Linked DNA regions of Homo sapiens. The protein of the gene in region 1 purifies or fractionates together with the protein of each later gene. This does not show direct contact. Each region holds a gene or a part of one and is shown in the gene's direction. Other genes may lie near its edges.

Region 1 (8,461 bases):
TCTCAGCTCATTCCAAGCTGCTGTTTCACTTACTGTAAACTGCAGCCAACCAATTTCTTTCCATTCCTTCAAGAGATCATGATCACTCCCCACCTCAGGGCTATGGCACAACTTAGTCCCTTAAAAACTCCCAATCTTCCAATTTCTACTAAAAAGGTACTACCTTAAGGCACTTTCTTGAACTGCCTCCCTAGCCCTTTCCCTCCTGCCTTAGTTTGCTAGAAGACTGAGATCAAGGTGTCCATAGGGTTGGTTCCCTGTGAGGCCTGTGAGGAAGATCTGTTCCACGACTCTCTCCTAGCTTTAGGTAGTTTTCTGGCACTCTTGGGTGCTGTTCATTGGCTTGAAGAACCATCGCCCCAACCTCTCTCTTCATCTTCACATCGTGTCCTGCCTGTGTGTGTGTCTGTGTCCAGATTTCCCCTTTTTAATGAGGACGTTATCATATTGAATTAGGGGCTTGCCCTACTCCAGCATGACTTCATCTTAACTAATTATATCTGCAATGACCCTATTTCCAAATAAGTTCCGATTCTGAGGTATGGAGGGCTAGGGCTTCAACATATGAATTTTGTGGGGAGGCACAATTCAACCCCTAACACACCCTGTTTTTCAGGTGGAGTCCTTCAGTTATGTAGTGTCATAGTTCTGCCCTGCAGATTTTTTCTGCCCTGCAGGTTTTTTCTGCCCTGCAGTGTAATTATCACTTGAATAATCACACAAGCAAATGTACATCTATTATGCATAGATTGTAAGCTCCATGAGGGGCCACATCCACTTTTGGTGACCGTTGCATCCCCATGTCTGGCATGTAGCAGTCATTAAGTAGTCACTGAAGGAACACATAAACTCTGTGGCCCTCCACGTTCCCCATTGCATGTCAATGTCAAGAGACCAGACTTTGTCTCCCAAACCTGCTTGATCACTTCTCAGTGATCAAGATCCGGCTGGAGGCAGACCGGTTGACATGAATTGCTGCCCAGTCTTAGTGACCCCCTGAAATGCCAACATGATCTCCCCTATCAAGCCAAGCCCCTGCTAGAAAAGGACATCTCTAAAATGTGTTAGCACACTGCAGTTTCATTTTAAATGTGTCTCATAATCACCAGTGATTACTACTAAGGAGCTTCTCTAGAGATCTTAAAAACAGATTGCTTCCCTAAGGGCTGGAATAGTTCAGCTGGGTACCTAAGGGATGTGTGAAATAAAATAAATTCCTAGCGCCTCTTTTATCTCTAATATTCTAAGATCCTGGTGGTTTGATAACTTTGGACATGGTCCCTTAATGCAGACAGAAGAGTATCTTAGTCTCCTAACTCTCTGACCAACACTTAGATCAATAAGGCACTGTCGACAGTGCACTAGAATAATAAAGAACCCAGATAGGTTGAAAAGCCCTTTGTACCAATATAACTGTAATGCTGTTAGAATCACCTTTCCTGTATGCTCTCAGAAATAAGTGCCGCTTTTGCAAAGTGTTAAGATAATTTAATGTCTGGCTTTTCTGTTTCATCATCTCATGGCATGAGGAATGCTGACTGCTCTAAACGTTGAACTTCTAGAAGCTTGAACCCATTGACTTGCCACGAGTAATTACTTCAGGAAGACTCCTGAGCCAGCGAGAAGCCAGGACAATGCACAAAGCAAAGGTGAGCTGCAGCAGTAACCTGACAGGGAGGTGAACTGGGGGTGGGCGACACAGGATTGGGGCACTGGAGCACACTGGTCCTTTCATGCACTCTCTGCATGGAGGAGTTCAAAGACAAATCAAACTGTTAAGTCATTCAGAGTGAGAACTTTTCAAAGCTATTTATTCTCTTCTGTGCATGCCTCCAACTGGCAGTGGCTATTACCTCTTGCATGAGCTCTGCACCCTTTTCTGCTTTGTGTTGAAAACCAGGGCAATGTAGATGAGAAAAGACTTTTACTTAGAAATTGGTGATTCTGAAGTTTTCAAATCTGTGAAAAATTCAGCATAAGTCCTCCCTTTCATTCCTCCCCTCAGTTTAAAACTTTTTATTCTCAGTTTGCAGGAGAAATCTTATCTACAAGTTATTCCTGACTTATTTGACACAACCTCACCAAAAATTAATCCTGGGAAATGTCTTCTGTGTATCTTTTCCCTGCTATGCACTTATAATGTTCTGTTGACTAGAACTCCCCTCACATAGAAATGAAAGCTTAGAGGTAGAAGCAGATTTTCAACACTTTCCACTCCTAATTTGTTTTGGAGCTTGCTAGGTGCTGCTGTGTGGCTGGCTGACTTGACAAAGATGTCCAGGTGCTGTCACATCCTCAAGCCCACGTTTGTGGTGCTGACAGCATCTGTGGAGATGGCCCCTCCCTGAGGTTCACATCAGCTGACAGTCACTATCCACACAGCAACACAAAAGGTATTGTCAAACACATCATCTTTCCTGGCAACAGCAAATGACAAATGAAGGTATATTGACCTCTGGCTGCCCTCAATAACCGTCTGCACTGTCCCACTGGAGTTTATGATGCACTGGCGGGGAGATGTTCAGAGTCACAAATAATCAACTTCAAATCCTCCCTAAACTGCAATATTCTCCAAGGCTTATGCTGGCATATGGAAATGCACTCTATAGAAATAGGTTCCATTTCACCATTCAGCAGCTTCCCTCTCATTTCATAGCCAGCCAATTACTCAATGGTAAAAGAGGCAGGGAGAAAAAGAAAGGTTTCCTCAAACCAGAACACAATTCTGGAGAGGTGGTAATAAGCATCTGTTTACAAAGGAAGTGATATCTTGCCAAAAATGAGATGTGGAAAGATATTCCCATTTAAGGTTTACAAAACTCTATAGCAACCTAAAAAACTACATATATACACATCAAAGAGCCACTTCATTCATTGATAGTGACACAAAGGACTTGTCAGGGACACACGATAGTCCACTTTTGTCATCACAAGATATCTCTACAGGTTATGACTGATTAAGATCTGACTCTGTTTCAAAAAGGATCTAAACTTGTGAATTGCAGAGTCAGTAACAAATTACCCCATACTAACAAGTGTGTTGTCTTTCATAGCAGGTACTAGAAAAGAAAATGCAAACTCCAATGTATACTTCTGAGAACAGACAATATTTGCATAAGATGCAAGTGCTGGAAATGATCCGTAAAAGACAAGAGGTAAATACGAGAAGAGTGTCATATTTACCAAATTTTCATCACATAATCACTGCCCTGCCACATGAATATATCAAGCATAGATAGCCAGTCTTTACTTAGCATTTTAAATTTCGTCATTGAGGTTGAAGGTTCAACTACTAAAGCTGAGAAGAATCAGGAAGATTCCTTCTGCTGATAACCTTGTTGAGTCTTTTCTAAGTTTGTATCTGTGTATCTGTGTCGCAAGTCTCCATTTTTAAAAACAGTTTGCTCCTATGACATTCTGGACATAGGAAAATGGGGCTAGATCATTTTTCTTGGTTTAGTGAAAGGAGGAGGGGGTGAGTTGTTCTTTATTCTGATACCTAGGCCTCTCTCTATAATTCTTGCCATAGAATTATCTAACAAGAAAGACCTCTTGTAAAAAAAACAACCAACCAACCAAACAAACAAAAAAACCCTTTACCAGTAATGCCTGTAACTGTCATGTTCCAAATTCCTCCCTCTAGGAAATGAGCCTTTAGTTACTGCTCTCTGGAACTCCAATCATATCAGCTAGCTGACAGAAACACACTTTTGTAAAGGTCCTCATCTTAATTGAGCCATACCTTTTTGAGACTGGGTGCACTCACCTTTCTCTTAACAAGCCTGTCAATAAATAAAGTTCCCATACCTTCTAATAGGAAAAAGAAAACCATGTTCTGGTTAGAGGACTGCAGATGTCTACAGATAAGCACACAACTTGCAAAGTGGCTGATCTGTTGATCTAGTCTGGTGAAAGTAGCTTGGGAAGAACATTGATCATTTATAGTTGATGATTTTCAGGCCCAAATGGAGTTAAAGAAAAGTCTTCATGGAGAGGCAAGAATTAATAAGCAAAGTCCAAGGGACCATAAAGCCAAGAAAACCCTTCAAAGCACCCCAAGGAATGATGACCATGACCTTCTAACCATGTTGCCTGATGAAATCTTGAACAGAGGTCCCGGTGAGTCATGTACAATTTTTTAGTAAAACATTTCAAGTGTTTTTAAAACTTCATCAAATAAACTACCAAGGGAGGGACATGATGAGAAGACAGCAAACAGCTTTGAGCTCTTGCTGAGATTTTTACTTCCCAGAATATAGTGGGCATGTTGTCATGTAATTTTGGATGGCTGGGAGGAAAAGACAGAAGCTTAAGCTTGGTAATTAAATGTCTCTTTCTTTGTATGGGTTTAATATGCTTTGCATGCTTCATTGCAAGTCTTGCCTCATCCCTAGAAGCAGAAAAGGCAAAATAGCCTCATCTTGTGGTTAGAGAGAATGAAGCATATGAAGATATATTGCCGGCAGTCACATGGCAAATTTGCTTCAGCAGAGTTGGTACCATATGCAGACACTTATCTTCCTGACTGCACCCTTTTCTGTGGAGGTCAACTCTCTTTGGCACATTCAGAATTTCTAGAATGAATCACTGCCCAACCTAAGCTTGCTGTTCCTGCTGATCTACTGGCTCAGTGAACCAGGCCTCCAATGTCACTCTTCCCTATCTCCCTACAGCTGGTCGGTCACCAAGCCCTGCTGATATCACCTAGCAGTAAAATCTGCCCTTTCTCTTCCATTCCCAGTAGTATTGCCTTAGGTATAGCCCTGGTCCTGTTACACCAGGGCTCCAGCTACAGCCTCCTGACTTGGCCCCTCCCATTAGGTCTTACTGTCCATCCATCAATGATTCACTTCAGTGGTTCTCCATGTGGTCACCAGACCACCAGCATCAGCATCACCTGGGAACCTGTTAGGGCCCCAGCCAGAGTAACTGAATCAAAAACTGCAGGGGTTATGCCCAGTACTCTGGGTTTAACCACCCCTCCAGGTTATTGTGATTCCCTTAAAGTTTAAGAAACACTTAACTTTAAGTGATTCTTAACTCTACTCGGTAATTAAAGTATTACCACATACAAGCATCATCAGTATCACCTGGGAGTTTATTACAAAAGGCAAAAATGGAGGTCATACCCCAGACCTACTGAATGAGAACCTGCATTTTATCAAGATTGCCAGATGATTCTCATGCACACTGAAGTTCTAGAAGCACTGCACTAACATCAGAGTAATCTCATAAAATGCAAATCTGACCATGTCACTCTCCTGCTTAGAAAAACAAGCAGGATTCTTGTCAGCTTAAAAACAACATCTAAACTCCTTAACATGGAGCTAAGTGTGGTGACTCATGCCCGTAGTCCCAGCTACTCAAAAGGCTGAGGTGGGAGGACAACCTGAGGCCAGGATTTCAAAACCTAGCCTGGCCAACATAACAAGGCCTCTGTCTCAATAAAATAAAATAAACTCAACATGGGATCCTAAGCCATTCAGGATCTAGTCATTGCCTACCTAGCCTTTCTAGCTTCATCTTCTGCCACTCTCGCACCCAGCCCCCACATTTCAGCCAGGCCAAATTGTTTATGCTCTCAGATCGCTCTATGCTTTCTAATGGACAGGCTTGTCTACAACTTCTACGCTACATTGCCCCACCAATTAGAGCCCCATTAAGTTTTCCTTGTTTGTATTTCCCCAGGGCAAACCCACAGTTGAAATTTCCAATATTGTTCACACACACAGATCGCTGTGCCGTGGGCCAAATCCCCACATCAGCAGGACTGACCCACCGCTGAGAGAGCTGCAGAAAAGCTGGCTATGTCTCTGGAGGTCTTGAACTTCTAAGACGCAAAATTGCCTGCTGAAAGAGACACTGCTCCTACTTGGAGAAACAAGACGCTCGATCAATAAGTTAATTAAATAAGAAAAGGCTGAATAATTGAAAATCTACTTGGGGCATCTATTTAACCTATACTTCCAAGTCTCAGAATGAAATATCCTTTGTAGTCACATAAACAATTTTTACCATTTAAACCGTACCTTAAAAAATATACACAAAACAACCAAGAAAAAAACCTCACCTAAAGTTAGACATTTAAGAGTCATCACTTGAGAGCACGCCAAGAAAAACCAGCATTGGCAAAGTCCCTGGAAGATGTCTCAGACCTGGAGGGGACCAAGGAGAAACTGGCACATGGAGAAAGGGGTTTTCCTCTGCTCTCCTGATGCTTTTTAAAGCTGCTTCGTTTTGTTCAAGCTAAGGTTTGTTGAGTGCTTACTATAAGCCAGGTACTGTGGTTTGCCTTTAATATGCATTATCTCTTTTAATTCTCACACAACCTAGAAGGTAGGAGCTACTATTCGCCCCAGGGTGATAGAGCCAGAATTCAAGGTCAGGTCTTCTTGACTTGCACTCTCACACAGCCCCACCAGGACACCAAGGACTTGGAACTCTGTCAAGGACAGCTTTGGAAAAGTTTGCAAATGTGGGGGTTGTGAGTCCTTGACCTTATTTACAAAGAAGGCTGCACTCTGCGACTTCTGAAAGGAAAGTTAAAGCAGCTGGCAGACTTTGGAGCTCATGTTCTCCTGGAAGTGATGGAGTGTAGAGAAGGGAGAATAGAAGGAGTAACTCAGGCAGGAACCAATTCAAGTGCCAGTCAGGGAGGTGTAGCTGCATCAGTAGTGCACAAAAGCTCAGTTATGAGCAGAACCACCTGAGGAGCTTCTCAAGAACACCCAGTCATGCCTGTAATCCCAGCACTTTGGGAGGCAAAGGTGGGTAGATCACCTGAGGTCAGGGGTTCGAGATCAGCTTGGCCAACATGGTGAAACCCCGTCTCTACTACAAATACAAAAATTAGTCGGGCACAGTGGCAGGCATCTGTAATACCAGCTACTCGGGAGGCTGAGGCAAGAGAATCGCTTGAACCCAGTAAGCAGAGGTTGCAGTGAGCCGAGATCATGCCACTGCACTCCAACCTGGGCGACACAGCAAGACTCCATCTCAAAACAAACAAAAGAAACACCCAGTCCTGTCTCCCAGCTTCATCCTACCGAATCTGAATCTCTAGGTTGATGGTGAAAGAATTTTACATTTTAAAAGTTCCTCAAGTGATTTTGAACATTAACCAAACTTAGATGGACTAGATAACCCTTGAGAACTCTTTCAACACTTTAACCGTATGAGAATCTTTTTCTTTGTAACAACTCCTGTACGTGTGTGTGTGTGTGTGTGAGATACACGTGACAAAATGAGCCTAGAAAATGTAGATTTTGCTAGCATGAAATAGAGAGGGAATTCTAACTCTTCCTATTATAATGATATCATAATTAACTAGACTTTTAGAATAACATGTCTGCATCAACTCACTTGCCTATTGCTGAAGTTGTTGGAAAGAGAAGTAAAGCAAATATCACTGGAAATTTGTTTGATGATAGAGAGATTACAATGCCTCCAAAGGATATCATTCTGTTCTGTGCTGCAGTGTTCACTGTGCAGCCCTGTACATGTAAAAGTATAGGATACTGGGATAATAATGGATACAGCTAGTATTTACAAGTGCTTCTAAGAATTTTAAATGCAGCATTTAATCTTCATATTAACTCTACAAGGTGAAAATTATTACCACCTCTCTTCTACAGATGAAGAGTCTGGGTCCAGAGAGGTCCAGTCACATATGCAAGGTCACAGCCAGCCAGTGAGAGGTGAAGCTGCTCAGGCGTGCACTCACGGGGCACCTGACTCCTGAGGCGACAGCCTTCACCTCTGTGCTCGGCATTTGTCCTAGCGATGATTCCTTTTTGCTTATTCCCAGAGAGCATCTTTGATTTCTTTCCACGCCTTCTAAAAGTAGTTCGCTTTCTCCTACAAATGGAGTGTAGCTAAGATCTTACACTTACATAAGCATTCTACTATCAGGGTCTGGTCATTAAGCATTCTACTATCAGGGTCTGGTCATTAAGGTTCCTCTGTAGCAGTCTCCTCTTAATGACATACTGGCCCATTCTTGTTCCCCTGTTGAAAGGTGAAATGAGGGTTGTGGCTCTCTTGTGAGATAAAAGTCAGTTGCTGCTTTCTACTGCATCTTTAAAATGAAATCTCCCACGCTTTACATGTATTTTACATACATTCCTATAATAAATTACATATACAATCATATGACACAAATGATATATAATGTACACATAGTGAATGTCACTCTTTTTGGTGTACAAGTCTATGAGATTTAATGTGTTTCTGTGGCTCCTACCCTTTGCTGAAGCTGTGACATGAATGAACACAGAGGGTGGGAAGAGCACCGGAACTGACCTCAAAGCCCTTCCCTGAGTCCCAGTAGTGCATCTACTAAATGGAAGCTCCATGAAGGCAGGGACCTTTTCTTGTCCCTAGAATAGTACCTGACACATGATAGCCTCTCAATAAATATTAACTGTATATTTTTCTATATAATTTTATTCTAGAGAGAGAA
Region 2 (7,730 bases), on another chromosome or scaffold:
CCGACTGCCCCCACCCTTGCAGCTGTCTGTAGCTATAGCCCAAGTATCAACCTCCTATATTTTTTTGTTTCATTGAAGATGACTGGTGCAAGGTCTCTACTGTCCTGAGGGTGTTCTCTGTGCCCAGGTCTGTGCCATCCAGAAAGGGTGTCCCCTGGGTGGGGCCCTTCCTGGCCCTGTTTGGTTCAGCAATAGGGCAACTGATACGGATCTAGCCCAGAGCTGGAGACCCTTCGGTGGTCAGATGGTAAGAGCATCTGATACTTGTGGGGTCAAAGCCGTGGACACCCCTGTGCCTACTGAGGCAGTCGTGGCAGTGTGTGAGGGGCTCCTGGTCGAGAGGGGAGATGGGGTGCTCAGAATCTCAGAGTTGGTGGGAGTGGCTCTGGAGCAGCCCACTCTGGCTTTTGCTTGACTTCTCCGTAAGTGTGGGTGTATGTGTGTGGTGCTGACCCCTAGAGAAAGGACCAGTAGGCAGCTGAGTCTTCTAGGCCTGGCCTCTGAGAACGTAGCGGTTACTGCCCGTGTGCCACCTTCAGTGAGCCTGCGGCAGCCCTGGAGAGTGGTCTGGCAGGCTGGGGGGATGGCACTGGCTGTTGGAATCTGTCCTGCTCACCCCAGGATTGCTGTGGAGCCTGAGACCCCCCTGCTAGGAGAGGGGGTTGAGATTTGAGCCTTTGACTCAACTCCTGCTGACCCAATATGAACCAGCCATGGAGGTCTGTGGTCGGCCTCCCCTAGAAGGAGTCAGAAGTGGTCTGGGGCCATATGTAGGGAGGAGGTGTGTAAAATCAGGGTTCTCGGGCAAGAAAAGATCTTACACTCTGGGGGTGAGACAGCTTCCCCTCTTTTCTTCCTCTTCCCACTTTGTCCTTTTCCAAGTAAGAGATAGAGTCACCCCATCTCCACTCCTGCCAAGTTCACTTCACTGCCCTTTACTGGCCTATTGCCTTTGCCCTGCACTGGGCCCAGGGAACCTCCCACTGTCCTCAGTGGGCGGGGCTACAGGTAGAATGTATTTTGAGGGTCCCAGGAGTTCATAATTGCAGGCCTTGCCTCAACACAGAGCCTGGTGTTTTGCAGAACACTTGCAGAGCCATTATCTCTGTGAGCCTTATGGCAGTTGTGGCTAGGCAGGGAAGGGACCACTTATCGCCCCACTTGTAGATGAGGACCCAAAGCCTCCCAGAGGTAGGTAGAGACATGCCCGGAAGCAGGAACAGAATCAGATCCATGTTCTCCAAATTCTAGCCCCCTTTCTCCCAAACTTATTCTGGACAGTTTGTCCTGTCCCTGATGATAGGCTTGGATCAGGGGTTGCAGGTCTAGGGGCCTGCGAACCAGCCCCCTGAGCAGCTGGGCAGCGGGGAAGCCTCAGTGACTGGCCCCTACCTAGACTGGGCCATTTCCCCAGCTGCCAGCCAGCTCCTACCCCAGCAAAGGCCCTGTCTCTCCTGAGGGATGCCATAATCAGGGCCCAGAGGACAGTGGTGAGCAACAAGGCCACTGCCAGAAGAGGCCAACCTGGGGCTGTGGGTGTGATGAAGAGCGCTGTTCCCCTCCTTTTTCTCCCCTCTTACTCTTTGGCCAGCCAGGCCCTGCCCACTCACTGTCCCCTAGGGCAGTGGATTTTAAGGAGGCTTGGCTCCTCCCTGTCGGCCTGCCCTGCCCAAGTCAGCCTACCCTGCTACTCCCCCTTAGGAGCCTCACATCTGGCTGGGTCTTCCCTGGCACTGTAGAGGTGGAGGCCCTCTTCAGTTCTGGAGTTCGTCTTATCTCCCAACTCTGATGCTCCTTCCCTTGGTTTCTGGGCTCCCTTGAACTCCCCTAGCTCCGTGCTCACGGCCATCTCAGGGTCTCCCCTGCTTGCAGCTGCACTTGGTACAGCCTGTGCCAGCCCCTGAGGGACCGGCTGCAGCTTCACTGGCAAACAGGCGGGCAAGGGGCACAGGGCTGCTGGCCGGAGCTGCCTGCACTCTGCAGGTAGGGTTCAGGCAGGGGCCGGGGTGCGCAGGGGACGGGGTCCTGGATCTGGGGCAGGCCCCTCCCTCTTCCCTTTGTCCAGCTTTGGGACCAGTCCTGGAGTATTGGGAAATGGGCGCAGAGACTTTAAGGCCGGCTACCTAGGCAGATCCTGTAATCCTTCCCTAAGCCAGGGTGGAGGGTGCTGGAGGGGAGCACTCCTTACAGCCGGCTGAGAGAGGCAGTTTGGGTGTGGAAAGCTTCTCACTGAGGAGCTGGGGCTGCTGAGCCCAGGGAGGGTCCTTCGGGGTAGGCTGGAAGCCTTGGCAGCCCCCATAGACCAGCAGCTTCACGGCCCTCTGGTGCCAGCCTCCTCGTGGTACAGATGGAAAGTCTAGTCTTGATGAAGAAAGACCCCTGGCTTCTGACACTCCCTTCCCCAGGGCCCTCTGTGGTGCCCCCGGTCCAGATCCTGGGGCCTGAGTGGCATAGACTGTTTGTGGCAGCTCCTTTTGGAGGGGCAGGCTAAGGCCAGGCCACATTTTGGCAGCCCTGGGGCCCTGGGGGACAGGGCGGGCCTCCAGGGAGGAGGTAGGGTTCCCTTGCCAACCAGGCCCTCCACTTCCTCTCCTCTTCCCTTGAGGGCTCGTCCCTAGGTCAGAGCTGAGCAGCAGCTGCGGCTTCTCTTGTGCTGCACAGGTCTAGGATGTCAGGCACAGGGCCCTGCCCCTTTGAGTGGAGAATCTGCTAGTCCAGGGGCGGGTCTGATCCTGGGTTGCCTGCCCTGGGAGCTGCAGGCTGGGGGTCCCTGGTGTGGCCGCCTGGTCCTTACCAAGCACCTGGTGTGTGTCTCTGAGGGTGTCTGTGTGCGTACGTGCATGTGTGTGCACACGTACACACGTGCACCTGCCTCTGGGAGGTAGTCACGTGGAGATTCTCATGGCCTGAGGGATCAGGCTCTAGTCTCATTTGTGGAGGTAATGAATCTACTTGTTCTAGGGGCAGACTCAGAATCCCCACCCCAAGCCTGGAATGGGTGAGGGGTCCCTGCGTTAGAGGTGAGGGTGAGCCCTTTGGGAGCCACACACACAGGCCTACTCCTCAGCTACTGAGGAGGGACTGCCCTCTTTCCCGACCCTGGGCTCTCTCGGGAGCTGGCCTAGGCAGGGCAGGGGCCCAGGGCTTTCAGGGGCTGCCCCTCCACCCTTTGACCCTGGCATCACTGTCTCTGCAGAGGCTCGGGGTGGTCTGGGGGCCCCTCCGCTGCAGTCTGCCCGATCCCTGCCGGGCCCCGCCCCCTGCCTCAAGCACTTCCCGCTCGACCTGCGCACGTCTATGGATGGCAAATGCAAGGAGATCGCCGAGGTATCACCTGGCACCACCCGCACCCTCACCCCGTGTCTCCATGCCCTGCCTCTGCTCCCCACACCCCTCACCTCAAGCTGTCCCCTCACCTCACGCTTGGCTGTCTCCTGATCCTCAGCCTCTCCCAGGTACCCCTGGTCCTGCTGCCCTCACCCCATCCCCAGACTCTGTAGGAGAGTGCCCGAGGGCGGAGGGCCAGCCATGCTGACCTTCCTTCCCTCCCCCCAGGAGCTGTTCACCCGCTCACTGGCTGAGAGCGAGCTCCGTAGTGCCCCGTATGAGTTCCCCGAGGAGAGCCCCATTGAACAGCTGGAGGAGCGGCGGCAGCGGCTGGAGCGGCAGATCAGCCAGGATGTCAAGTGAGCCCGGCAGGCAGCTGCTTAGTCTCCCTCCATACCCTTCCAGACCCTTTCAGAGCCCCTTTTCTGCCTCTTTCCCTCGCACCCTGCCTTGGGGGGTCTGCACAGGGAGCATAGAGTGGGCTTTGGAGTCGGGCTGCTGGGTTCTGTTCTGTCTTCTAGCCGCCGGTGTGGCTGGGTCATGTTGCTTAACTTATGGGTCTGCTTTCTCATCTCTAAAGTGAGTGAGAACAGCACAGGGTTCTGCAGCTCTGCCTTTGAGGATCACATGTGACAACATGTGCACAGCACCTAGTGCGGTGCTGGGACCTGGGAGCAAGGGCCGTCCCTCGGGATCTGCCTGACTTCTCACCCCTCTTGCCTCTAGGCTGGAGCCAGACATCCTGCTTCGGGCCAAGCAAGATTTCCTGAAGACGGACAGTGACTCGGACCTACAGTGAGGAGGGCAGAGGGGCACAGGGGATGCGGAGCTGCAGCCTGCCCTTCTGCCGGCTCTAAACCCCTCCCTTGAATGCACCCCCTGCAGGCTCTACAAGGAACAGGGTGAGGGGCAGGGTGACCGGAGCCTGCGGGAGCGTGATGTGCTGGAACGGGAGTTTCAGCGGGTCACCATCTCTGGGGAGGAGAAGTGTGGGGTAAGTATGGGGTGTATGTTGGGTGAGTCGCCATCACCTATGTCTTAGTGGGTTCCCCCAGCCTGGAGAGCTGGGGGTGGGGGCTGGAAAGGGCGTTTCTCTTTCCAGCAGCTGGAGGGGCGGAGGGGCAGAGGGGCTGCCTAGGAGCCACTTGATGTGCTGGACCAGGGTGATCTGAGTGTTCCTGGGGGTCAGGGCCTGTGGGAGGTGGGGATAGTTTGGGTTCTAAGATAAGGCCTTAGGGAGGAGGTCTCTGAGTCCAAGACTGAGGAGAGTGATCGCATATCCTCATCTCCAGGTGCCGTTCACAGACCTGCTGGATGCAGCCAAGAGTGTGGTGCGGGCGCTCTTCATCCGGGAGAAGTACATGGCCCTGTCCCTGCAGAGCTTCTGCCCCACCACCCGCCGCTACCTGCAGCAGCTGGCTGAAAAGCCTCTGGAGACCCGGACCTATGAACAGGGCCCCGACACCCCTGTGTCTGCTGGTGGGACTCCCCATCTCTGCCCCATGCCATGTGCCCTAGCCTCCTGGGCTTCTCAGCCTGGTGCCTGGGCACCTCTGCCCTGCCTGCCTCTCCCTACAACCCAGGCTCATTCCAACCTCTTGGGGTACAGGGGTGGAGGTTGGGCAGGAGCTGTCTGACCTACTGGGTCTTCAACATCTCTTGCCCTCTGTGGGGCCTTTGGGTTGGGCAGTGGGTGGCTTGGAAGAGCCCTGCTCTGACTTTACCCTCCTCACCCCTGCAGATGCCCCGGTGCACCCCCCTGCGCTGGAGCAGCACCCGTATGAGCACTGTGAGCCAAGCACCATGCCTGGGGACCTGGGCTTGGGTCTGCGCATGGTGCGGGGTGTGGTGCACGTCTACACCCGCAGGGAACCCGACGAGCAGTAAGAGGGGTGTGGTGCATGTTGGGGGGATGCAGCGTGGGAGGTTGCGTTGGCTTGGGAGAGGCCACAGGGCTCGGCTTGCTCTCCTCACCCAAGCTCCCCTCCATGCCAGTTGCTCAGAGGTGGAGCTGCCATACCCTGACCTGCAGGAATTTGTGGCTGACGTCAATGTGCTGATGGCCCTGATTATCAATGGCCCCATGTGAGTCCCCTGCCATCCCAGACACTTAGCTCCCCTCCCAGCCCAGATTCTCCAGCCCCAGTTCTGCCCCAGACTCCCATCACCTGGTGTCTTGCCCTTCCTAGTTGCTGAGCCCTCGACTTCCCCGCAGTCTACTTCCCTCTTGGCAGCCTCCATCCTTACCCTCCCACCTGCTCCCTCTGATCTGCTACCCAAGCCCTCCCCAGGTGCCTCCCTTCAGGGCCTAAGTCCCTGCCTTGTTCTCCTCATGCCCAGAAAGTCATTCTGCTACCGCCGGCTGCAGTACCTGAGCTCCAAGTTCCAGATGCATGTGCTACTCAATGAGATGAAGGAGCTGGCCGCCCAGAAGAAAGTGCCACACCGAGATTTCTACAACATCCGCAAGGTGGGCCCTCACCCCGTGGCCGTCTCCATGTCCTCATCCCACACCTCTGCCCAGCCTCCCCTTCAAGGGCCAGGCCCCCCACACAGCATCCAGTACAGAGGGTCCTTTCCCATTGCACTGCCCCAGGCCCCAGACCTTCCTGGCCTCTGGTGGATCAGCAGTGCCCTGTTCCATTCCAGGTGGACACCCACATCCATGCCTCGTCCTGCATGAACCAGAAGCATCTGCTGCGCTTCATCAAGCGGGCAATGAAGCGGCACCTGGAGGAGATCGTGCACGTGGAGCAGGGCCGTGAACAGACGCTGCGGGAGGTCTTTGAGAGCATGAATCTCACGGCCTACGACCTGAGTGTGGACACGCTGGATGTGCATGCGGTCTGTGCCAGTGGCGTGGGCTGTGGGACTGAGTCAGTCAGGGGACCAGGAGTCACGGGTGACCTGAGCCTTCCCATGTCCCCCAGGACAGGAACACTTTCCATCGCTTTGACAAGTTTAATGCCAAATACAACCCTATTGGGGAGTCCGTCCTCCGAGAGATCTTCATCAAGACGGACAACAGGGTATCTGGGAAGTACTTTGCTCACATCATCAAGGTAAGGAGGCAGCCTTCCCTGCCAAGCCTCGAGCCTGAGGATCTGGGGGCTTTTAGGGGGTGAGACTCAAGGAGGGTAGGCAGATGACCCCCTGAAGAGCTCTGACTCAGCTCACCTCATGTCTGACTCAGCTCACCTCATGTCTAGGAGGTGATGTCAGACCTGGAGGAGAGCAAATACCAGAATGCAGAGCTGCGGCTCTCCATTTACGGGCGCTCGAGGGATGAGTGGGACAAGCTGGCGCGCTGGGCCGTCATGCACCGCGTGCACTCCCCCAACGTGCGCTGGCTGGTGCAGGTGCCCCGCCTCTTGTGAGTGTCCCTGGAGTGGGAGGGGAACCTGCGGGGTCATATTCAAGGGGTCAGGGCCTGCCTCCTGCCCTCCTAGGATGGCTGAGCCTCCCTTGTCCCTGCCAACCCCTCTGAGTGCAAGGAAGGGCTTCCTGGTCCCATCCATGGTCTGTCCAGCCTGGCCCACCTGGGTATCCTTGCTTTCCCAATATGGTTCAGATGCGCCCCTGCGCTCTTGGGCCAAGCTCTGACCCTTGCTGGACCGCTGGGTTTCCTCCCACTGGCCCTGACTTGCACATACCTGCATGTTGTCTCACCTGCAGTGATGTGTACCGTACCAAGGGCCAGCTGGCCAACTTCCAGGAGATGCTGGAGAACATCTTCCTGCCACTGTTCGAGGCCACTGTGCACCCTGCCAGCCACCCGGAACTGCATCTCTTCTTAGAGCACGTGAGCAGGCAGCGCAGAGCTGGGTATGGGGAGGGCAGCCGGCTTCGCATCCAGCTGCAGCTCTGGTTCTGACCCCAGGGTTCTGTATTAGGTGGATGGTTTTGACAGCGTGGATGATGAGTCCAAGCCTGAAAACCATGTCTTCAACCTGGAGAGCCCCCTGCCTGAGGCGTGGGTGGAGGAGGACAACCCACCCTATGCCTACTACCTGTACTACACCTTTGCCAACATGGCCATGTTGAACCACCTGCGCAGGTGCCTGCACCACCCTGTGTCTGCTTGCTATGCCATCTCTCGCCCAACAAACCTCACTCTTGGCACCTTGGGCCAGGGCCACTAGACCTCTGACCCACCTGTTGCCTGGACTGGATGGGTTCTTTCTCTGCCCTTGGAGCTACATCTGTCACCCCTCACAGCCAGTAATCTACCCCTGTCCCCCTTATCCCAGGCCTGCATAGTTATTGGCTGGAGGACATATGCGTGCTGGGTGGGGGTCAGGGGCTCCGGTGAGCCCAGGTGATCCCAGGCTCAGGAGCTGACACTGTCTTCATGTCCCCCAGGCAGAGGGGCTTCCACACGTTTGTGCTGAGGCCACACTGTG

Evidence for each region.
Region 2: the proteins of CCDC198 (region 1) and AMPD2 purify together in Homo sapiens (affinity purification with mass spectrometry; 3 studies listed by BioGRID and IntAct, with this or other methods). This does not show direct contact.

Annotation. Positions count from the first base shown.
Region 1 is NC_000014.9:57,476,253-57,484,713, reverse strand, and holds part of CCDC198 (factor associated with metabolism and energy), read left to right. Parts: intron 1-1,529; exon of another isoform or gene 1,530-1,562; coding exon 1,563-1,649; intron 1,650-3,053; coding exon 3,054-3,155; intron 3,156-3,959; coding exon 3,960-4,119; intron 4,120-5,688; coding exon of another isoform or gene 5,689-5,705; exon of another isoform or gene 5,706-5,732; coding exon of another isoform or gene 5,733-5,785; exon of another isoform or gene 5,786-5,935; intron 5,936-8,461. UniProt on the Homo sapiens protein: May be involved in tuning the metabolism, energy expenditure, and excretion processes.
Region 2 is NC_000001.11:109,622,107-109,629,836, forward strand, and holds part of AMPD2 (AMP deaminase 2), read left to right. Parts: intron 1-1,922; exon of another isoform or gene 1,923-1,983; intron 1,984-3,196; coding exon 3,197-3,327; intron 3,328-3,555; coding exon 3,556-3,686; intron 3,687-4,053; coding exon 4,054-4,122; intron 4,123-4,212; coding exon 4,213-4,321; intron 4,322-4,619; coding exon 4,620-4,806; intron 4,807-5,068; coding exon 5,069-5,210; intron 5,211-5,322; coding exon 5,323-5,412; intron 5,413-5,667; coding exon 5,668-5,797; intron 5,798-5,976; coding exon 5,977-6,171; intron 6,172-6,257; coding exon 6,258-6,389; intron 6,390-6,536; coding exon 6,537-6,700; intron 6,701-7,002; coding exon 7,003-7,129; intron 7,130-7,220; coding exon 7,221-7,384; intron 7,385-7,689; coding exon 7,690-7,730. UniProt on the Homo sapiens protein: AMP deaminase plays a critical role in energy metabolism. Catalyzes the deamination of AMP to IMP and plays an important role in the purine nucleotide cycle.